2 linked regions of the Homo sapiens genome follow. The protein of the gene in region 1 purifies or fractionates together with the protein of each later gene. This does not show direct contact. Each region holds a gene or a part of one and is shown in the gene's direction. Other genes may lie near its edges. The genes, in order: TRNAU1AP and PRPF39.

What was found.
Region 2: the proteins of TRNAU1AP (region 1) and PRPF39 purify together in Homo sapiens (affinity purification with mass spectrometry; 3 studies listed by BioGRID and IntAct, with this or other methods). This does not show direct contact.

What each region holds. Positions count from the first base shown.
Region 1 is NC_000001.11:28,545,959-28,557,528, forward strand, and holds the start of TRNAU1AP (tRNA selenocysteine 1-associated protein 1), read left to right. Parts: upstream 1-7,126; 5' UTR 7,127-7,152; coding exon 7,153-7,179; intron 7,180-7,681; coding exon 7,682-7,779; intron 7,780-11,570. UniProt on the Homo sapiens protein: Involved in the early steps of selenocysteine biosynthesis and tRNA(Sec) charging to the later steps resulting in the cotranslational incorporation of selenocysteine into selenoproteins. Stabilizes the SECISBP2, EEFSEC and tRNA(Sec) complex.
Region 2 is NC_000014.9:45,084,311-45,095,778, forward strand, and holds part of PRPF39 (pre-mRNA-processing factor 39), read left to right. Parts: intron 1-3,932; exon of another isoform or gene 3,933-3,998; intron 3,999-10,910; 5' UTR 10,911-10,929; coding exon 10,930-11,253; intron 11,254-11,468. UniProt on the Homo sapiens protein: Involved in pre-mRNA splicing.

The sequences.
Region 1 (11,570 bases):
CTCGGCTTCCCAAAGTGTTGGGATTATAGGCGTGAGCCACCATGCCCGGCCAGTATCTCATTCTTAATAGCTCATATGCATTGGGACTTCGAGTAGGGTAGGCATCGTATTGAGCACTTTACATGCAATAGCTTGTTTAATCCTCACATCAGCTCTACTATCCTTCAGGGAACAGTCCCTGCCAGTTGAAGTGACTTGCTTGAGGTCAGGAGGCTACCAAGTGCATAGTCTATTCAGCCTCCACCTGAGCCCAGAACCTCAGTATTTTTTCCTCATATTGTACCTAAGAGTTATAAAGTTCCCTAGATGTTTTATGTATATTAGAACAGTGCCAGCCACGTAGTAAATGCTATACAATTCTTTGCTATTATGATTATTTTACATTTTATATTCCCTGTAGTTAATAATTGCCTTGTTTTTAATGTACTTTGTTTTGTTTGTATAAGTATCATTAATTCAGTTCCAATATATCAGAAGTATAAATCTTTTGGGTGTTCAAACACATCACCTACTTTCAATTTTATCTTTTCCTCCGTCCTCTCCCAACCTGAATTAATTACCCCGAAATAAATGTAAAGTAATACAACATATGGCTGTGCTATAAATAATACTTACAGTCATAATAATGTGGATGTTCAACAGTGCTTTAACAAAATATCATCAGGAAGGCTGGGCACGGTGGCTCACGCCTGTAATCCCAGCATTTTGGGAAGCCGAGGTGGGAGGATTCCATGAAGGCAGTAGTTTGAGACCAGCCTGGGCAACATAGTGAGACATCCCCCTGCACCCAATCTCTACCAAAAAAAAAATTATGGGTGTGGTGGTGCACACCTGTAGACCCAGCTATTGAGGGCAGGGAGGCTGAGGTGGGAGGACTGCTTGAGCCCAGGATATCCAAGCTGCAGGGGCTGTGATTATAACACTGTACTCCAGCCTGGGTGACAGAGCAAGACCCTGTTTTTTAAAAAGTTGGGGTACGGTGGCTCACGCCAGTAATCCCAGCACTTTAGGAGACCGAGGCGGGTGGATCACCTAAGGTCAGGAGTTCAAGGCCAGCCTGACCAACATGGTGAAACCCCATCTCTACTAAAAATACAAAAATTAGCTGGGTGTGGTGACGGGTGCCTGTAGTTCCAGCTACTCCAGAGGCTGAGACAGGAGAATCGCTTGAACCTGGGAGGCAGAGGTTGCAGTGAGCGGAGACCCTGCCATTGCACTCCAACCTGGGCGACACGGCGAGACTCTGTCTCAAAAACAAAAAAGAGGCCGAGCACGATGGCTCATGCCTGTAATTCCAGCACTTTGGGAGGCCGAAGTGGGCAGATCACCTGAGGTTGGGAGTTTCAGACCAGCCTGACCAACTTGGAGAAACCCCATCTCTACTAAAAATACAAAATTAGCTGGGCATGGTGGCGCATGCCTGTAATCCTAGCTACTCAGGAGGCTGAGGCAGGAGAATCGCTTGAACCCGGGAGGAGGAGATTGCAGTGAGCCAAGATCACGCCATTGCACTTCAGCCTGGGCAACAAGAGCTAAATTCCATCTCAAAAAAAAAAAAAAAAAAAAAGCCAGGCGCAGTGGTTCACGCCTGTAATCTCAGTACTTTGGGAGGCTGAGGTGGGCAGATCACGAGGTCAAGAGATCGAGACCATCCTGGCTAACATGGTGAAACCCCGTCTCTACTAAAAAAATACAAAAAATTAGCCGGGCGTGGTGGCGGGTGCCTGTAGTCCCAGCTACTTGGGAGGCTGAGGCAGGAGAATGGCGTGAACCTGGGAGACAGAGCTTGCAGTAAGCCGAGATCGCGCCACTGCACACTCCAGCCTGGGTGACAGAGCAAGACTCTATCTCGAAAAAAAAAAAAAAAGAAAAGAAAACATAGGAGATGGAGAGATAAGTGTCTATGTATATGGGGAGGGGGCAGCCACTAAATACCTGAAACTGCAAGTAAAAAAGTAGTGTAGTAGAAAGTATATATTTTAAAATACACAGGTAGGTTCTAGGAAAAAGACTTGGAAATAGTCGACTCAAGGGAGTGGGAATTCGGGGGCAGAGGGTAAGAGACCACTGTCTCTTTCCATTTTTTTAAGACAGAGTGTCTCTCTGTCCCCCAGGCTGGAGTGCAGTGGCATGATCTTGGTTCACTGCAGCCTCCGCCTCCTGGGCTCAAGCAATTCTCATGTCTCAGCCTCCTGAGTAGCTGGGATTACAGGCACGTGCCACCATGCCCAGCTAATTTTTGTATTTTTAGTAGAGATGGGGTTTCACCATGTTGGCCAGGCTGGTCTCAAACTCCTGACCTCAGGTGATCTGCCTGCCTCCACCTCCCAAAGTGCTGGGATTACAGGTGTGAGCCCCTGCACCTGGCCAAAAATAAATTTTTTTAATAAAGAGCACAGCACAGTGACTGGCAAATAATACTAAATTAATAGCTGTCAGTTATAATTTTAAGGCTTCCAACTGCCATGTTGGAGGATTTACTGAATGCTAGGCATTGGGCCAAGTACTTTCCCAACTTATTTTTTTCCTCACAACCACCCTGTGGGGTAAGTAAGCACTATCCACATTAGGCCCAGAAGTTAAATAAATAATTAGCAAGAGGTGGGGCCGGGATTATGCTCCATTTGTTTGAATCTACAGCCAAAATGCCTAACCACTACACTACTATTGCAGTGATGGTAGGATACGGCCAGAAATATGGCAACTCGTGGTTGAACCTCAGGTTTTCAGACTGATGAGTCTCTGGCTTGAGAGCACAACATCCTAAGTTGAGGATGTATAGACTGGTAGGAAAGGACTTTGGGTGCCCATTAGTCCAGAGGGAGCCCCAGAAAGTGGCCTTAAAACACTTGGAGTGGGTTTCACTGTCAGAGATGCCAATTACTACATACAGAAGAAGCTTTCCATACTGACGACTGGGCACCAAAGTAAGTCAGAGGCCTGGGATACTCCCAGAGTAGGAGCATCTCAAAATTAAACTGTCTGGATTGTCTAGCCATCTAAATTGTGTTTATGACGGCACACTGTGGGCAGGTCACTGTTCTGGGACTAGTCAGAACTCCAGGTGATTTGGAGTAGGGTAGTGGGACTCAAGAAAATAGAGGCCGGGAGCTGTGGCTCACACCTGTAATCCTAGCACTTTGGGAGGCCCAAACAGGTGGTTCACCTGAGGTCAAGAGTTCAAGACCAGCCTGGCCAACATGGTGAAACCCCATCTCTACTAAAAATACAAAAATTAGCTGGGCGTGGTGGCGCCAGCCTGTAATCCTAGCTACTTGGGAGGCTGAGGCAGGAGGATCGCTTGAACCCAGGAGGCAAAGGTTGCAGTGACCAGGATAGCACCACTGCACACCAGCCTGGGCAACAGGAGCAAAACTTCATCTCAAAAATAAATAAATAAATAAATAAAAATAGAGTGACAGAACTTGGGGACTGATTGGTTGCCAGATGACAAGGTTACTCCAATTTACACTCCTTTTAATTCTTCCCACCTCCCACCCCAGGGCCCTATATGGGAATGAAGGAAGAATCCCATTCCGGCTCCAACAAGACTCATGTTTTTCAGACTGGTAAACCTGGAGTGAGGGAATGGCTTGCACAGAGCAGTGGCTTGCCCTGGGTCACAGTGAGACAGTAAGAACAGGGCTTGGCTTCAGCTCACCAAGACTAGAGCAGCAGTTCCCAACCTTTTTTGGCACCAGGGACTGGTTTTGTGGAAGACAATTTCCACGGACAGGGGATGGTTTGGGGATTACTCAAGCGCATTACATTTATTGTGCACTTTATTATTATTAATGTAACGTTGTAATATATAATGAAATGATTATATAACTCACCATAATGTAGAATCAGTGGGAGCCCTGAGCTTGTTTTCCTGCAACTAGACAGTCCCCTCTGGGGTTGTTGGGAGACAGTGACAGATCATCAGGTATTAGATTCTCATAAGGATGCCAGGCATGGTGGCTGACGCCTGTAATCTCAACACTTGGAAAGGCTGAGGCAGATGGATCACCTGAGGACAGGAGTTTGAGACCAGCCTGGCCAACATGGCAAAACCCCGTCTCTATTAAAAATACAAAAAAATTGGTGGGCGTGGTGGCTCACGCCTGTAATGCCAGCACTTTGGGAGGCTGAGGTGGGTGGATCACGAGGTCAGGAGATTGAGATCATCCTGGCTAATACGGTGAAACCCCGTCTCTACTAAAAATACAAAAAAACTAGCCAGGCATGGTAGTGGGCGCCTGTAGTCCCAGCTACTTGGGAGGCTGAGGCAGGAGACTGGCATGAACCTGGGAGGCGGAGCTTGCAGTGAGCTGAGATCACACCACTGCACTCCAGCCAGGGCGAGAGCGAGACTCTGTCTCAAAAGAAAAAACAAAAACCCACACCACCATACCCACTAACTCTGAGGCTTTAGTCATATAAAGAAAAATAGCCATTATATATTGTTCTTTTGTGCTCTTATAATGTGTAACCATGCCCTTTAATTAAAGAATTCCAGGATCTACAAAAAAAAAAGAAAGCAGAAAAAAGAAGCCAGGCGTGGTGGCTCACGCCTGTAATCCCAGCACTTTGGGAGGCCACAGTGGGGGGATCATGAGGTCAGGAGTTCTAGACCAGCCTGGCCAACATAGTGAAACCCTGCCTCTTCTAAAAATAAAAAAAAAAAAAAAAAAAAAAAAAAACTAGCCAGGCATGGTGGCAGGTGGCTGTAATCCGTCTCAAACAAAAAAAAAAAAAAAAAAAAAAAAAGAAAGAAAAGAAAAAAGAGGCTGGGCGCTGTGGCTCACACCTATAATCCCAGCACTTTGGGAGGCCAAGGCAGGAGGATCGCTTGAGCCTAGGAGTCCAAAATGAGCTTGGCCAACATAGTGAGCTCTCCTCTCTGCAAAAAAAAAAAAATTAGCCAGCTGTGGGGGTGCACACCTGTAGTGCCAGCTACTCTGGAGGCTGAGGCAGGAGGATCACTTGAGTCCGGGAGTTTGAGGCTGCAATAAGCCAAGATTGTGCCAATGCGCTCCAGCCTGGGCGACAGAGAGAGACCCTCTCTCAGAATGACTGACCAACTGAATAAATAAATAAATAAATAAAATAAAAATAATTCTAGGATCTGGCCTTAGGAGATCCAAATTATCCAACCAAGGTTGTGGAATGTCTCATCTCAGGAAGAAATGCTGAAAACTTCATTTACAGCCTTGTTGCTGACAGCCAAACTACCAGGTAGCCCAGTACTAAAGATAATCATTGGCTGGGCGCGATGGGTGGCTCACGCCTGTAATCCCAGCACTTTGGGAGGCCGAGGTGGGTGGATCACCTCAGGTCAGGAGTTCGAGACCAGCCTGACCAACATGGTGAAACCCCGTCTCTACTGAAAATACAAAAATTAGCTGTGCCTGGTGGTGGGCGCCTGTAATCCCAGCTACTCAGGAGGTGAAGCAGGAGAATAGCTAGAACCCAGGAGGCTAGATTCTAGCTATTCTGAGCCGAGATTGTGCCATTGCACTCCAGCCTGGGCGACAAAGGAAGACTCCGTCTCAAAAAAAAAAAAAAAGATAATCATTACAACAGGATATGCTGACCTTCATACCCCACCCTCATGAGCTTTGTCCTGCCCAGCCTGTAAACCCTACACTTGATATCACTTTCCGTGCTTTGCCCAATAAAACATCTCAACCAGCTCTTTTCGGAGAGTCAGGGAATTCTCGCTCTCTTGTGCTGCCTCCCTTATACCCAGGCATAAGCTCCAATGAAGACTTGTCTGGGAAAACTTTTTTGGCCTCATGTTAATTTCTGTTGGATTGAGAGCCTAAGAACCCCTGGTAACAATAGGGAGGTAGTGGAACCGGGTTGTCCGGAGGGATATTTTCACTTTTTTGGATGCACTTGTATCTGCAGTTTTTTACAACGAGCATATATTAATGTTGTAATTATGTGTGTGTTTGTGTGTGTGTGTACGTGTGTATGTTTTTTGTTTTTTGTTTTTTTTTTAATTTGAGACAGAGTCTCACTCTGTCGCCCAGGCTGGAGTGCAGTGGCGCGATCTCGGCTCACTGCAGCCTCTGCCTCCCGGGTTCAAGTGATTATCCTGTCTCAGCCACCTGAGTAGCTGGGACTACAAGTGCACACCATCATACCCGGCTAATTTCTGTATTTTTAGTAGAGACGGGGTTTCACCATGTTGGCCAGGATGGTCTCGATCTCCTGACCTCGTGATCTGCCCACCTCGGCCTCCCAAAGTGTTGGGATTACAGGCGTGAGCCACCGCGCCCGGCCTTGTTTGTTTTCTAAATATGTAAAGTCAGAAATTAACCCAAGTAACGAGCATACATATATATGTGTGTGTGTGTGTGTATATATGTATATATATGTGTATGTGTGTATATATGTGTATATGTGTATTATGTGTGTATATGTGTATATATGTGTATATATATGTGTATGTGTGTGTGTGTGTGTATGTATATATATGGAGTCTTGCTCTGTCACCAGGCTGCGGTGCAATGGCGCTATCTCGGCTCACTGCAACTTCTGCCCCCTGGGTTTAAGCGATTCTCCTGCCTCAGTCTCCCGAGTAGCTGCGACTACCAGCGCTCGCCACCACGCCCGCTAATTTTCGTACTTTTAGTAGAGAGGGGGTTTCCCCCTGTTGGCGAGGATGGTCTCGATTTCTTCACCTCGTGATCCGCCCGCCTCGGCCTCCTCAAGTGCTGGGATTACAGGCGTGAGCCACCGTGCCCAGCCCTAACGAGCATATATTAATGTTGTAATTATATGTGTCTGTGTGTGTGTGGTTTTGTTTTCTATATAAAGTCAGACGAGTGTGTGTGTGTAGTTTTGTTTGTTTTCTAAATATATAAAGTCAGAAATAAACCCAAGTAACCCAGCCGCCTGGGCCAGGTGGTATCTGGCCCGCCCCATTCCAGCCTGAACTCCGCCCACCGCGATCCGGAAGCCTAGCGCCCAGTGGGTTGCAGGAAAAACCCGGAGCTGAACACACTGCCCGACCCGGGCCGCTGCGCTCGGGAGCCTGCGCAGAAGCCGTCGGAGGCGCATGCTCTGTAGCGGTCTCCGCAGCCAGGATTGGCGCCCGCGCGGGCCTTCGAGCCCCGCCCGCAGAGCCCCGCCCGCAAAGCCCCACCCCGGTGCGCGGGTATGGCGGCCAGCCTGTGGATGGGCGACGTGAGTGAGGGCAGCCGTCCGGGGTCTGAAGACAAGGAAGCATCTCGGTTTCGCGAGAGAGGAAGGATCTGAGTGGGAGGGGACTTGGGATCCCAGAAAGGGGAGACGTGTGACGGGGGTTCTTTTTGGTGACACAGAAGCGGGTTCCAGCATCTAAGTGAAGAGGCTGAGTCCGTGAGGCTAGGGGTCCTGGGGCCCCACCTGGGTTCGTGGGAGGGAAAGGTGGTGCTTTGGGGACATAGAATGGGAGCAATCCAAGGACTGAGGCGCGCTGTTCTGGGACCGGAGGAGTGGGGTTTCTAGGTCCAAGGGGAGGCTCCCTAAAGCGGGGCAAGCTTGAACCAAAAGAGCTGGGGTTTCAGGCCGCTCAGTGGAGGCGAACCTCGCCCCTCGCTCCCCCAGCGGCGCGTAGCCAGCCCTGGGCTGAACGGGAGGGGCTCTGGAACCCGGAGTGGGAAGCCCGGCCGCCGGCCTGAGCCGCTGTGCTCTTGTTTTTACGCAGCTGGAACCCTACATGGATGAGAACTTCATCTCCAGAGCCTTTGCCACCATGGGGGAGACCGTAATGAGCGTCAAAATTATCCGAAACCGCCTCACTGGGTAAGTCTCATCTCAGGTCTCTCTTAATACATCTCGTTGCAGCTGTCATGTACGAGAATGTAAACATCGTAGTCATGGCTTCTCACTACCCCTAGTAATAGTCACTGTAAAATTATAACAGCTAACATTTTGAGGTCCCAATGAGTGGAAGGATGGCATGTAGCTTAAGGGTAGGACTTGCCAGGCGTTGTGACTCACACCTGTAATCCCAGCACTTTGGGAGGCTGAGGTGGGTGGATCACCTGAGGTCAGGAGTTTGAGACCAGCCTGGCCAACATGGTGAAACCCCGTCTCTACTAAAAATACAAAAATTAGCCGGGTGTGGTGGCAGGCACCTGTAACCCCAGCTACTCCGGAGGCTGAGGCATGAGAATCACTTGAACCCGGGAGGCGAAGGTTGCAGTGAGCTGAGATCGTGCCACTGTACTTCAGCTTGGACAACAAGAGCAAAACAATGTCTCAAAAAAAAAAAAAACAAAAAAACAAAAAACGCAGGACTCAAGCGAGACTGGGTTTGAAAGCTATTTCTACTCTATGACCTTGGGTAAGTTACTTAACTGCTCTGTCTCATTCACTTTGAGTATAAAAATGGAAATAACAGCACCTACCTCCTAGAGTTATGGTGAGGATTAAATGAGTTAATTCACATTCATCATTAGGACAGTGTATGGCATATAGCATATGCTCAGTAAGTATAGTCAGATTACGATCTGCTGAGTAATAAGCAGTTTACATCCATTATCTCCTTAAAACCTCAGAAACTTCTGAGGTAGGTAAATACTATTATGAAGAGGCTTAATAACTTGAAGAGTTACAATAAATAGCCGGGCGCAGTGGCTCTCGCCTGTAATCCTAGCACTTTGGGAGGCCGAGGCAGGCCGGATCACGAGGTCAGGAGATTGAGACCATCCTGGCTAACACGGTGAAACCCCATCTCTACTAAAAATACAAAAAAAATTAGCTGGGCATGGTGGCGGGCACTTGTAGTCTCAGCTACTTGGGGGGCTGAGGCAGGAGAATGGCGTGAACCCAGGAGGCGGAGCTTGCAGTGAGCCGAGATCGCTCCACTCCACTCCAGCCTGGGCGACAGCTGAGACTCTGTCTCAAAAAAAAAAAAAAAGAGTTATAATAAATAACAAGTCAGGACTTGAATTCGAGTCTATCCTGAAAGCTCATGAGGGCCCTTAACTCTTATGCCATTCATTTAAAAAATTGTGGAGGATGGGTGCGGTGCCTCATGCCTGTAATCCCAGCACTTCGGGAGGCGAGAAGGGTGGATCACCTGAGGTCAGGAGTTGGAGACCAGCCTGACCAACATGGAGAAACCCTGTCTCTACCAAAAATTAGCCAGGCGTGGTGGTGCATGCCTGTAATCCCAGCTACCTGGGAGGCTGAGGCAGGAGAATCGCTTGAACTTGGGAGGCAGAGGTTGTAGTGAGCCGAGATCGCGCCATTGCACTCCAGCCTGGGCAATAAGAGCGAAACTCCATCTCAAAAAAAAAAAAAAAATTATCTGTGGAGATACTACTGTGTTCTACTGTTATACATTCCTGGCTGAAATAATCCAGATATAGCCCCTGCTCATGGAGTTTACTACATTCTAGTGGGGAATGAGACAATAAATAAGTAAACATAACCAAATGCGTATTTTCAGATAGAGGTTCTCTATTGCCTCCATGTTCTTCTTTCTCTTTGAGGTCTTAGTTTTCCTTAGGGAATTATCAATTTGTCAGTGTTTATCAAGCAGCTACTCTTTTCCTTTTTTTTTTTTTTTTGAGACGGAGTCTCGCTCTGTCACTACCCAGGTTGGAGTGCAGTGGCGCGATCTTGGCTCACTGAAAGCTCCGCCTCCTGGGTTCACGCCATTCTCCAAGCAGCCACTCTTTTCTCGGTACTCTACTACATGTGGCTTGCTAAAACATCAAATGGTTTAAAAATAGAGATGAGACATTTGAAAGATACTTTGTGTATTCAGAACCCCATTACCTAGGAAAAGGTTTTTCTGACTGGTAGATCGTGCCCACCTAAATATTTCTCTTCTTGCTCTTCTAAGCAGAAAACCCCAGATAATCAGCTACTGGTATGAAAATTCATTCTGTAACCTTTCTCATTTTTTTTTCTTTTTTTTTTTTTTGAGACGGAGTCTTGCTCTGTGGCCCAGGCTGGTGTGCAGTGGCACGATCTCGGCTCACTGCAAGCTCCACCTCCTGGGTTCAAGCCATTCTCCTGCCTCAGCCTCCCAAGTAGCTGGGACTACAGGCGCCCGCCACCACGCCAGGCTAATTTTTTGTATTTTTAGTAGAGATGGGGTTTCACCATGTTAGCCAGATGGTCTCAATCTCATGACCTCGTGATCCGCCTGCCTTGGCCTCCCAAAGTGCTGGGATTACAGGTGTGAGCCACCGCGCCCGGCCCCTTTCTACTTTTTAAAACACTGGCATAGGCTGGGCACGGTAGCTCACACTTGTAATCCCAGCACTTTGGGAGGCTGAGGTGGGCAGATCACTTGAGGTCAGGAATTTGAGAACAGCCTGGACAACATGGTGAAACCTTGTCTCTACTAAAAAAATACAAAAATTAGCCAGGTGTGGTGAGACACACCTGTAATTCCAACTACTTGAGAGGCTGAGGAAGGAGAATCGTTTGAACCCAGGAGGTAGAGGTTGCAGTGAGCCGAGATTGTGCCACTGTGCTCCAGCCTGGGTGACAGAGGGAAACTTTGTTGCAAAAATAAATAAGTAAAACACTGGCATAGATTCTCACATTTTAATCTTTTTTTTTTTTTTTTTTCTGAGGCATAGTCTCCCTCTGTTGCCCAGGCTGAAGTGCAATGGCACCATCTTGGCTCACTGCAACCTCCGCCTCCTGGGTTTAAGCCCTTCTCCTCTCTCAGACTCCTGAGTAGCTGGGATTACAAGCACCTGCCACCACGCCCAGCTCATTTTTTTTGTTTGTTTGTTTTTTGAGACGGAGTCTCGCTCTGTCACCCAGGCAGGAGTGCAGTGGTGCGATCTCAGCTCACTGCAACCTCTGCCTCCCAGGTTCAAGCGATTCTCCTGCCTCAGCTTCCTGAGTAGGTGGGACTACAGCCGTGTGCCACCACATCCAGCTAATTTTCTGTATTTTTAGTAGAGATGGGATTTCACTGTGTTAGCCAGGATGGTCTCAATCTTCTGACCTCTGCCTGCCTCAGCCTCCCAAAGTGCTGGGATTACAGGCGTGAGCCACTGCGCCCGGCCTAATTTTTTCTATTTTTAGTATAGATGGGATTTCACTGTGTTGGCCAGGCTAGCCTCGAACTCCTGACCTCAGGTGATCTGTCCGCCTCAGCCTCCCAAAGTGCTGGATTACAGGCATGAGCCACTGGGACCAACCTTACTGTTTATTGAAATAAGATATGGGCCAGGCACAGTGGCTCACACCTGTAATCCCAGCACTTTGGGAGGCCGAGGCAGGCGGATCACGAGGTCAGGAGATCGAGACCATCCTGGCTAACACAGTGAAACCCCGTCTCTACTAAAAATACAAGAAAATTAGCCAGGCATGGTGGCGGGCGCCTGTAGTCCCAGCTACTCGGGAGGCTGAGGCAGGAGAATGGCGTGAACCCGGGAGGTGGAGCTTGCAGCGAGCGGAGATCACACCACTGCACTCCAGCCTGGGCGACAAAGTGAGACTCTGTCTCAAAAAAAAGAAAAGAAATAAGATATGGAACTCTTGTTTCTTACATGTTTCTTTTTTTTTTTTTTTTTTTTACTTTGAGGCAGAGTTTCGCTCTTGTCACCCAGACTATA
Region 2 (11,468 bases), on another chromosome or scaffold:
GGGCCTGCCGGGTTTCAGGCCGCGCTCTGGCCGCGGCCTCCCTCTCCCGCCCTGTTTGAGGCCTGGCTCGGATTCAGCGCTCAGCTGTCCATTCCTTTCTCCTTCCCACCTGTTGGGTGGAGCGGTGCAAGGTATTTTTTTCTTAGACCAAACGTTTCACTTGAGGGGTGCGTTAGGTAGGGTGGAGAAGTGTGGGCCTCCTTCGCCTGGATTTAGGAAGATATTTGGGGGTAATTCTAAAGCCCTTGCTTCTCCCGGAGCTGGAACACGGCTGGGGTGGCTGGAAGTGGAAGGAGCACATTTGCAGCCGCCAGAGGATTGGGAAGATAATATACGTTCTATTACTAAGGCATGTGAGCGCCTTGTAGGGCACGTTCTGTCTTCTGACTACATAAGCAACACTTTTGCGACCCTAAGTCACAGCACCCACAGCTTTTGGCAGGATACTTTAAAACAGAAAAAACACATCATTGATCCTGGCAGGATTTTTTAAGGGATTGTGCTTAAGAATGTTTAACTTTGGTAATCAGAGACCACCACTGGTGTTTTTCTCCAAAATCACATCTTTAAGTTAATTAATACTTGAAGTTAATAAATAATACTGCTCAGTGTATTAGTAATGATGCCATAATACCATGTGAATTTATGCTGATTCAAATGTTGTTTTTTTCGTTTGATACTCATATGGCCTTCTGTTTGAGGACTTCAGATTATTTAGCAACTGATTTAATCTGTTCAGAAATAAACTTTGCTACAGCTGGAAAGCGTGAGGCTTGAGAAAGCAAGTTTTGGACAGGGACGTATGAAGCTCATGTTGAAACTTAAGTGTTTTAGGCTGTATGGGAGCTTGAATGGAGTGAAAAGAACAAGCGTCTACTGTCAGGTTTTCCTCCTCCCTCTAGATTTATAACCTCATTCTAGAGTTGCAAAAGTTGGAACTTTCCACTGTTCACTCTCTAGTAGGGATAAAGTGATGGAAAGGAGTTCTGTTAAAGAGGACTAGTACTTAGATTGTGAACTTTGAAGTAGGGGTTGAGCATAGATGGCTCATAGGTGGTATGAGACACTATTTGTGTAAAGTCTCAGAATATTTTTCCTTGCTTATAATTGAATAAGAAAGAAGATGTTTAAAAGTCAAATGATAAAAATTGTATGTGCTGTTTTCTGTGGTATGTTTTAACAAATCTACATGGAAGATAGGACTTCAAAAAAAATTAAAAATAGCCGAAGGAGGAAGAAGGTAGTGTAGTTCCAGCCAAATGGTACGTTTTCCAAAAAGCCGAAGATTGATGTAGACGTTTATGTAAATACATATACAAAATCTAGTTTCTGGAACACAGTGTTTAATATGTAGAGACTTTAAAAAGTCGGCGTGTGACTACTTAGCCCTTAAAAACAGCTGCCAAAACCAGTGGTTATGATAGTCTCTTTTCTTCTTACATCCCAAATCTCCAGATTGCCTTGTGGATGAGATTTGCTTATTGCAAAGCTACTTGTTTTGCTCTACCCAAAACTCCTTTCAGTCTTTAGTGATGACTTCAGATTTTTATATATTGCTGTGTTTATGAAAAAGAATAGTCAATGGTATAATTTTTAAGTACCTCTACAGGAATAAGAGGCATACAGAAAAAAAAAAAAAGGTATTAGGTCAAAAGATGGCATTTCACTCTCGTTGCCCAGGCTGGAGTGCAATGGCGCTATTGGCTCACCGCAACCTCCGCCTCCCGGGTTCAAGTCATTCTTCTGCCTCAGCCTCCCCAGTAGCTGGGATTACAGATGCGCGCCACCACGCCTAATTTTTTGTATTTTTAGTAGAAACGGGGTTTCACCATGTTAGCCAGGCTGGTCTAGAACTCCTGACTTCAGGTGATCTGCCTGCCTCGGCCTCCCAAAGTGCTGAGATGACAGGCATGAGCCACCGTGCCCGGCCCAAATGTCCCATTTTTAATTAAGTGTTAGTAATTGAAGTCATCCTCCAAAAGACCTTTTAAATTTTAAGATGGCATAATTGTCACTGAAATACTTAATGTACGTCATAATTATACTAAAAGTGAAAGGTATGATAAATGTATTTTTTATATATTGCCTATTCACTTTATGTTATGTTTCATTTTATACTTGTGTCCTTTGTGCCTATCATATGATTTTATAATAAAGTGTAATGTAGTGAAAAGGAATCGACTGGTTTGGTGAGTTGAAAAAGGGAGGACTTTTATTAGTCTGGGGGAACAGCTTTTGTCAAGGCTCAGAAAGGAAAAATCTAAGGGACTCTGGAAATGGCAATGAGGAGGAGTATTGTAAGATTAATACTTTTGGAAAGTTAAGTTGAGACTGGATATATCATTCAGAGATATTTGTTGTGCTGTTACACGGCAAGTATTATTTCAGGTTCAAGGGGGACAGCGGTGAACAAAACTGATAAGGCCTCATTCTCACCCAATTTAATTTTTTTTTCCTTTTACTCTTGTTGAGCTGTGATCAGGAAATTTAATATTCGAGTAATATTAGTTTGCAGTAGTGCAGCAGTGTTTCTCAGTTTTTTTTTTTTTTTTTTTTTTTACTGCAGCCCACAATAAGATGTACATGGACATCACTAACTCAATAAACAGTTCAATTGTGTGTGCTTCAACAGTGTGCCCTTAATGTGTGCATTCACTGTGGTATATCTGTTTTTCTACATTTAAAAAATGAGAAACTGGTTTGAAGCAATCTGCATTTGAAAACATTGATCCAGAGGGGAGAAAATAAATACTTAAATTATAACACTAGTAGTGTGAATGGAAAGAAGGGGATAGTTAATTTTTTAAGGTGTATTATTTCGCTCTGTCGCCCAGGTTGAAGTGCACTGACATGGTCAGCCCACTGCAACCTCCACCTCCTGGGGCTTGGGTGATCCTCCTGCCTCAGCTTCCCAAGTTGCTGGGACTACAGGTGCGTGCCACCACACCCAGCTAATTTTTAAATTTTTTTGTAGAGACAGCATTTCCCTATGTTGCCCAGACTGGTCTCGAACTCCTGGACTCAAGCAGTCCTCTCACCTCGACTTCCAAAGTGCTGGGATTACAGGTTTGAGCCACTGCATGGGTGGCCCAGAGTGTATTATTTTTTTTGATGGACAGATCTTAATTGTATACATCGTGGGATAGGGGATCATTCATTTTTATACCGAGGTATGTTTGAATATTTTGTGAATGAGGCTTAGAGAGGTTAAGTAATTGGCTCAGAGTTCCCTAATGAGTAGCCAGAAGACTGTTTTTTTTTTGTTTTGTTTTGTTTTTTTTGAGATGGAGCCTTGCTCTGTCACCCAGGCTGGAGTGCAGTGGCGCTATCTCGGCTCACTGCAACCTCCGCCTCCTGGGTTCACACCATTCTCCTACCTCAGCCTCCTGAGAAGCTGGGACTACAGGCGCCCGTCACCATGCCCGGCTAATTTTTTTTTTTTTTTTTTTTGTATTTTTAGTAGAGACGGGATTTCACCGTGTTAGACAGGATGGTCTCTATCTCCTGACCTCATGATCCGCCCGCCTCAGCCTCCCAAAGTGCTGGGATTACAGGCGTGAGCCACTGCGCCCGGCCTCATAAGTGTTCTTCTGGCCTCTAAAACCCAAGTACTTATCACTTCCCATTTGGTTATGAAAGCAATATACTGGGTTTTAGTATGGGTTACTGAAGACTAATGTTACTTGTTTATTGTTCAATGAATTGAGTGTATACTAGGCCTCCAGGTGTACTGTATCCCTGTGTATTGGTAGATATGGTCCTTACTCTCAAGAATTGTGTAATCTGGTAGAGAAGATACACATTGAACAAGTATCACAAATGTGTTATGTGCTATGGAGAAAAAGAATGCTGTTGGGGCATGATTGAGGGCAACCTAATTTATTTGGGGGGTATGATAACACTTTTCAGGAAATGATGTTAAACTTTGCCCACTGTGATGATGGCATTTCTTAGGACAATTTTGGATTAATTATGAAAACAACTACTCTCTGAGCAATTGTTGAAAAAAAAATTAAAAAGCAAACTTTGCCCAGAAGATTAGGCTTTAGTTAGTTTGAAGGCACTGAGTCAGAGTGTGGTGTCAGGTAAAGGGATGAGGAAGCATTCAGGTAGAAGAAACTGCATGTACTAAGGTTCCTAAGCTGAAAGGAACAGAATTGGAAAAAACAGAAAGCAAAACTCAACAGAAATAGAATGTCTGGGCTGTACAAGTTAGTAGAGAAGAGGCAAGAGTTTTGGTGTTAGGATGAGGTTGAATCTTAGCTCTGTTTCTTACTATTCATGTACATTTAGACAAGTTATTTAACGTTAATGAATTTTGGTTTTGTCATCTTTAAAAGGGAAAGTAGCATTTAACAAAATATTTGCTCAATAAATAGCATATCTTATTATCATTAATAGCTAGTAATTGAAGTTATAGCAGTGCAGATGACATGCTTTCATTCATTCATTCTTCAGAAATAATGAGTGTCTTTGTGTGCCAGGCAACTCGATACACAGTAGTTGAATTACACATGTATATGTATTATTACATTAAAGTGTCATAAAACCATATACTTTTACTATGCAAAGCACTGTGCTAAAATTTTTTTCTATTCTATTTTCCATTTGAAGAAAGGTTCAAGAAACTGGTGTGAAGCAATCTACAGTTTGAAAATTACTGATACAGTGAAGAGATGATTACTTAGCCCCTTATTACAGATATGATATGCAAATATTTTCTCCCATTCTGTAGGTTGCCTTTTCACTCCACTGATTGTGTCCTTTTATGCACAAAAGCTTTTAAATTTGATGTAGTCCTATTTGTCTGTTTTTGCTTTTGTTTGCCTGTGCTTTTGGCATTATCCAAGAGTTCACTGCCAAGTCCAGTATCATTAAGCTTTCCCCTACGTTTTCTTCTAGGAATTTTATAGTTTTAGGTTTTACATTTAGGTCTTTACTTCATTTTAAGTTAATTTTTACATGTAGTATAAGACCAGGGTCCAACTTCATTCTTTTGCACGTGGATATCCAGTTTTCCAAGCACCATTTGAAGAGACGATCCCTTCCTCAATGAGCAGTCTTAGCACTTTGTTGAGGGCCATTTGAGAAGGGAGTTTATTTCTGTGTTCTTTATTTCATTGGCCTATTTGACTGTTTTTATGTCAGTATCACACTTGATTTCTTTCTTTTTTTTGAGGCAGGGTCTGGCTCTGTCACCCAGGCTGGAGTGCAGTGGCACGATCACGACTCACTGCAGCCTTGACTCCCACTTCAGCCTCCGGCTAATTTTTGTATTTTTTTGTAGAGAATGGTTTTTGCTATGTTGCCTGGGCTGGTCTGGAACTCATGGGTGATCGGCCTACTTGGCCTCCCAAAGTGCTGAGATTACAGACAGGAGCCACTATGCCTGGCCCGTTTTATTTCTTTCTTTTGATAGCTATTCTGTACCCTTTCCCATTTTATGTTGCTAGTTGAAAATTATTGGTTGTTGTTAAGAATAAACTGATAATAATTGACATATAAATAATATGTTGGAGTAACTCATTAAAAAATAACTTTAGTGTATTCTTTTGACTCTGTGATTTGTGAAGTAATCATCAAAATGATCTCTATAAGCATAAGGTTGATGTTCTTAAATCTTTTTACAACACTGTGATTGCAGGGTGTGGAGTAATTGACAGGCTCTGAAGATGCAGGGGTGTGGTAAATTTGCTGATTCCAGAAGAAACCCTTATGTCTCACCTAAGTGTGAAATTAGAATAGGGTAGCTAGTTAATGACTCAGAATGTATCAGCCTACAGTCTTTTTTGTATTTTGTTTTTAGACTGAGCTCTGAAATACAAAACCACAAACTAGTGACTAATTTGCATTTGGAAAATTAATCTTCAAACGTATCTTTTTCTTTAAAGGAAGAGGGAAAAAGAACAAAATAAATTTACAAGTTACTTTGCCTTTTCCTAGGGCCTGAAGTGATTAAACTTGGAAAAGTTGATGACATTAATCATACATTGAACTAGAAGGGAACTTATTTTTTCTGGTAGTCTACTACTTTGGACTCTCTTTTATTATGCATTGGCTAGATTTGCTTTTTCTGTAATTTTTTCTCAAATTCTTTTGTCCATAATATGGCTCCATGCTACTTTGCTTTTACCCTTCTACTTCTCAATACCAACCTCTTCATTCTGGTCATTCTGTGTCTCTCTTATCTTTTCAGTCATCATTTCTACCTTCTTGTCTGCTGTCAAGGAGAGTTGTTTAATGGGTTGTTCCACATTCTAGAATAGTTTACCATTCTTTTTCTATTATTCCATAATTTTTCAAAGTTAATTATATTTCATGTTTTCATCTATAGATTGCTATTGTTTTCAAATGATTTTTTCAATAATCTTTCACTTTGTTTCATTTGAGAGCTTATCTCCAAATGTGTGTGTGTATGTGTTTGTGTGTGTGTGTATGTGTTGTGTGTTAGCTCTTTCTCTACCTGGTTAATAGACATTAGTGAGTAAGGACCTTATCTTACACTTATATGTCACTACGAGGAATGTAATACAGTGCTGGACATCCATCAGGCATTGAAAATTTTTTGTCCCCTTCCCCCATCCCCACATGTCCCATTTTTTCCTTTCAAATTTTTGTGTATTCCCTAGATTTACCTGGTTATAGCTAATTCTTTCAATGGCATTCAGACTCAGAAGGTCTTTTAACATTTAAAATTTATTCTTTCTTAGGAAAAAAATAGTTTCATACTATTTGTTCTTTCTTTTTCTTTTTCCTTGTTTTTAATAGAATCTTGCTCTGTCTCCCAGGCTTAGGAAAAAAATGGTTTCATACTATTTGTTCTTTCTTTTTCTTTTTTCCTTGTTTTTAATAGAATCTTGCTCTGTCTCCCAGGCTGGAGTGCAGTAGTGTGATCGTAGTTCACTGCAGCCTTGAACTACTGGATGATCAAGTGATTCTCCCACCCCAGCCTCCTCAGTAGCTAGGACTATAGGCACACACCACTGTGCCCAGCTAATTTTTAGATTTTTTTGTAGTGATGGAATCTCACTTTGTTCCCCAGGCTGGTCTGGAACATCTGGCTTCAAGCGATCCACCCACCTTGGCTTCCCGAAGTGTTGGGATATAGGTGTGAGCCACCTTTCCTGGCCATGCTACATTTTGAAATGATGGAAATGTTTTAGAATCTGGGTTTTGTATCCGTGTGACAATTTTAAAGGGTCACACATAGACACATGACCCCGAATGCAAAACTAATATGACAAACTTATAATAATATTTTACAATTTTGCAGAGATCTGGCTTTCTTAGTTTACGAAGAGTGTATACAAACCAATAAGAAAAAAATTAGTAATGAACAGAAAATATGGGCAAAAGATGTGAAAAGGCATTTATGAAAAAAAGAAATAAAAATTTTACTTACTCATAGTTAAGGAAATGAAAATCAAAATGAGGTGCTACTTTGTTAAAAAAAAATTAGATGAGCAAATGATAGCTATTGTTGCCGGGGATATAAAGCAATGGACAGTCTCATGCACTGTTGATGACTTAATTGGTTAGGAATTCATTTTGTCTCAAAGTAATAGAAAACTTGTATATTGATAGTAGTTTAAACAAATAGGAATTTATTTCCTTACACAATAGGAAGGTGGCATTTTGTTAGAGCTTGATGATGTCAAGGTTGGTATTTCTTAATTTTCTTGGCCAATCCCTTATAGACTACTTCATGGACATGAATCGTTTCAGATATGGTCAAATCCAAGGTAAGAATAAATTGGTAGAAGGAAGGACCACACTAGTTGTGATTGTCCCTTTTTATCAAAAAAGCAGAAGCTTTCTCAGAGCTCTGCAGCTGATGTTCTTTTCAGTTTTGTGGTCACTTACATGAGATTAACTATATTGCTGCTTTGAATGAAATCAGTATTTTATTAGTAAGGAAATTACTAATAGTGAGAAGGGATATTGGGTAGGCAACTAACAGTGTCTGCCAGATGACTAGTGCAACTTTTCCAGAGAGAAATTGTCAGCATCGGCTGTGCACGGTGGCTCACGCCTATAATCCCAGCGCTTTGGGAGGCCGAGGCAGGCGGATCATGAGGTCAGGAGATCAAGACCATTCTGGCCAACATGGTGAAACCTCGTCTCTCCTAAAAATACAAAAATTAGCTGGGCATGGTGGTGCGTGCCTGTAGTCCCAGCTACTCAGGAGGCTGAGGCAGGAGAATCGCTTGAACCCGGAAGGCGAGGGCTGCAGTGAGCCGAGATTGCGCCACTGCACTCCCGCCTGGGTGACAGATCGAGACTCTGTCTCAAAAAAAAAAAAAAAAAAAAAAAAGTCGTCAGCATCTTTCCAAATTTAGTATTATTCTTCAATCCAAAAGTTATACTCTCCAGAGTTTACCCACAAACAAGTTTCTGTTTTTCTGAATTATTTAGAGAACTTGGTAGAAGTATAACTTTCTTGGCCCTTCCCTAGACCTCAGAATCATTGTAGTCGGTAAGGAATCTATATTAGTTTTAAACAGCTTACTAGTTGACTTGTTTGGAGCCAGATTTGCAAATTTCTGCATAGACGGTAGTGAAACTCAGATTTTTATAGTATGGTAGTCATAAAATTGTTAAAAAAAAAATGTATCCAGTCAACTTATAGCTGGCTTTTTAAAAAAATAACAAAAAACTTCTCCCCCCATTCAGTTAAGTAATTGCAGATAGGCAAAAAGAATAAAGCACACATCTCTCTTTTGTATGGAGAACAATTGTTAACACCAGCTGCCAGTTTTGTATTTTATTTTATTTGGTGTAAATCCTTACAAATCTGTGAGTGCATGTGTGTATGCATATATATGTATTTAAAAAATCTATAATGGATATTTTTCTGTATCAATACAGATGTACATATTTCCTTTTTAATTCTTATTATTCCATTATATATGATTTATTTTTTTTTTTTTGAGACGGAATCTCACTGTATTGCCCAGGCTGGAGTGCAGTGGCACGATCTTGGCTCACTGCAACCTTCACCTCCCGGGTTCAAGTGATACTCCTGCCTCAGCCTCCCGAGTAGCTGGAACTACAGACGTGTGCCACCACACCCTGCTAATTTTTTGTATTTTTAGTAGAGATGGGGTTTCACCATGTTGGACAGGCTGGTCTTGAACTCCTGACCTCAGGTGGTCTACCCTCCTCGGCCTCCCAAAGTGCTGGGATTACGGGCATGAGCCACCGTGCCTGGCCGAGTATACTATTTATTAAAGCAGTCTTTTTCTTTTCTTTTTTTTTTTTTGAGACGGAGTTTCACTCTTGTTGCCCAGGCTGGAGTGCAATGGCATGATCTCGGCTCACTGTACCCTCCTCCTCCCAGGTTCAAGAGAGTCTCCTGCCTCAGCCTCCTGAGTAGCTGGGATTACAGGCATGTGCCACCACGCCCGGCTAATTTGGTATTTTTAGTAGAGACAGGGTTTCTCCTTGTTGGTGAGGCTGGTCTCGAACTCCCAACCTCAGGTGATCCGCCTGCCTCAGCCTCCCAAAGTGCTGGGATTACAGGCATGAGCCACCACGCCCGGCCAAAGCAGTCTTTTTCTTAATACACCCTCCAGTTTTGCTGTACAACAGTGCTGGTAATGAATGCCCTTAAACAAATACATGTTTTTTCTGATTATTTCCATAGTATAAAATATGTACAGTTGCTATTTGGTACACTCATTATTTTGATTTATGTCTTTATTAGTAAAGATATAGGTCTTTTTTATGTTTATTGGTCATTTGCATTTCTTCCTTTGCATTATTGTCTTTAAAGTTTTAGTCATCTTTTTAATTAACTACTATTAATATATTAAGTAGTAGTATATTCTAAGTATATTTTAAGAGTAAATCAGTTTTATGGTCTGCTTAATTTTGAGAATAATTCCTCATTTTAAAAAAAATGAGACATGCCCTATAATTTAATGATTTGGTTTCCATTTAAGCTGTTAGTGGAAGAGATGAAGGTAATTATGAAAATATAATGTGGTATTACCTTAAAGGGGTAATTGCTTATTACCTTATAGCCTTAAAAATTAGATGACATAATTTTAAGTATATTATGTAGTTATTATCCAGACTGTAAGCCTTTCTCAAATATGTTTTTTAGAGGTAGGGTCGTGCTCTGTTGCCCAGGCTGGAGTATCGTAGCAGGGTCAATGCTTACAGCAGCCTTGAACTTCTGGGCTCAGGTGATCCTCCTGCCACAGCATCTCCTGAGTAGCTGGGACTGCAGCTGTGTGCCACCATGCCTGGCCCCTTAAATGTGTTTTAAGTAACATTTATTCACTTTAAAAATTACTGTTTAATTTTTTAAAGCCATAATTTATATCTTATATAATAAAGTTGAAACCTAGCTGTCAGGATTTATAAATCGTAAGTATATAGATATATTTAAGCAATATGATTTTATCTTTTCTAAAACTTTATCCTGAGCCAAGTGATGAGCTTCCTTTTGAAATGTTTATACCCATGACCAGAATTTTTGTCAGTTTTACTTTTAGCCTCCAGAACAGTTGTTAAAGATATGCCGTTTTCCAGTGATTGATAGCAAGGTAACATTCAGGCACCGAATCAGATTCTTACCTAAATAAGAAACATTGAATTTTAAATAGTATTTCTTCATTGGGTAGCAGGCAGTGTACTTATTTGTTGTTTGAATGAGGTAACAAATCCACAGTTATTTGGTTTTCATTCAAATACCAACAACAAAATGGCAGTTTTGTGAAGAATTTATAATTTTATTTACAATATAAAAACTAATGAACCTTCTGATTCTGACTTGTAGGGGATTAAGACTCACATTAATATTTCTTTAATAGCTAAATTAGGGCTTTTTAAAAGGTGTTGTTGAGGCCAAATAATTTTATTGGCATTTGGAAGATATTTCTCTTTTTTTCGTGTTTCCACAGATCGTTAACTGAAGACAATATGCAAAATTCTCACATGGATGAATACAGAAATTCTAGTAATGGCAGCACAGGCAACAGTTCAGAGGTAGTGGTAGAACATCCTACTGATTTCAGTACTGAGATTATGAACGTTACAGAAATGGAACAGTCACCTGATGACTCTCCCAATGTGAATGCATCTACAGAAGAAACTGAAATGGCAAGTGCTGTGGACCTTCCAGTGACGCTGACAGAAACAGAAGCAAATTTCCCTCCAGAATATGAAAAATTTTGGAAAACTGTAGAAAATAATCCTCAGGATTTTACAGGCTGGGTATATTTGCTTCAATATGTAGAACAGGAGGTTAGTAACTATTAAAATGGTATCAGAAGGGACAAATTAATCAAGTCATTAATTTATAATGAAACAGTAGACCTTATTGTTTATGATTAAAATTGACTCATAATTTTCAAATGAAGTTGAATAACATTAGGTAGCTACATTTTTAGCTTTGAAAATAGCTTACAGCTTTTGTATGTTGTAGAGAGTCAGTAGTGTCAAAGCTTAATGTTTTGTAA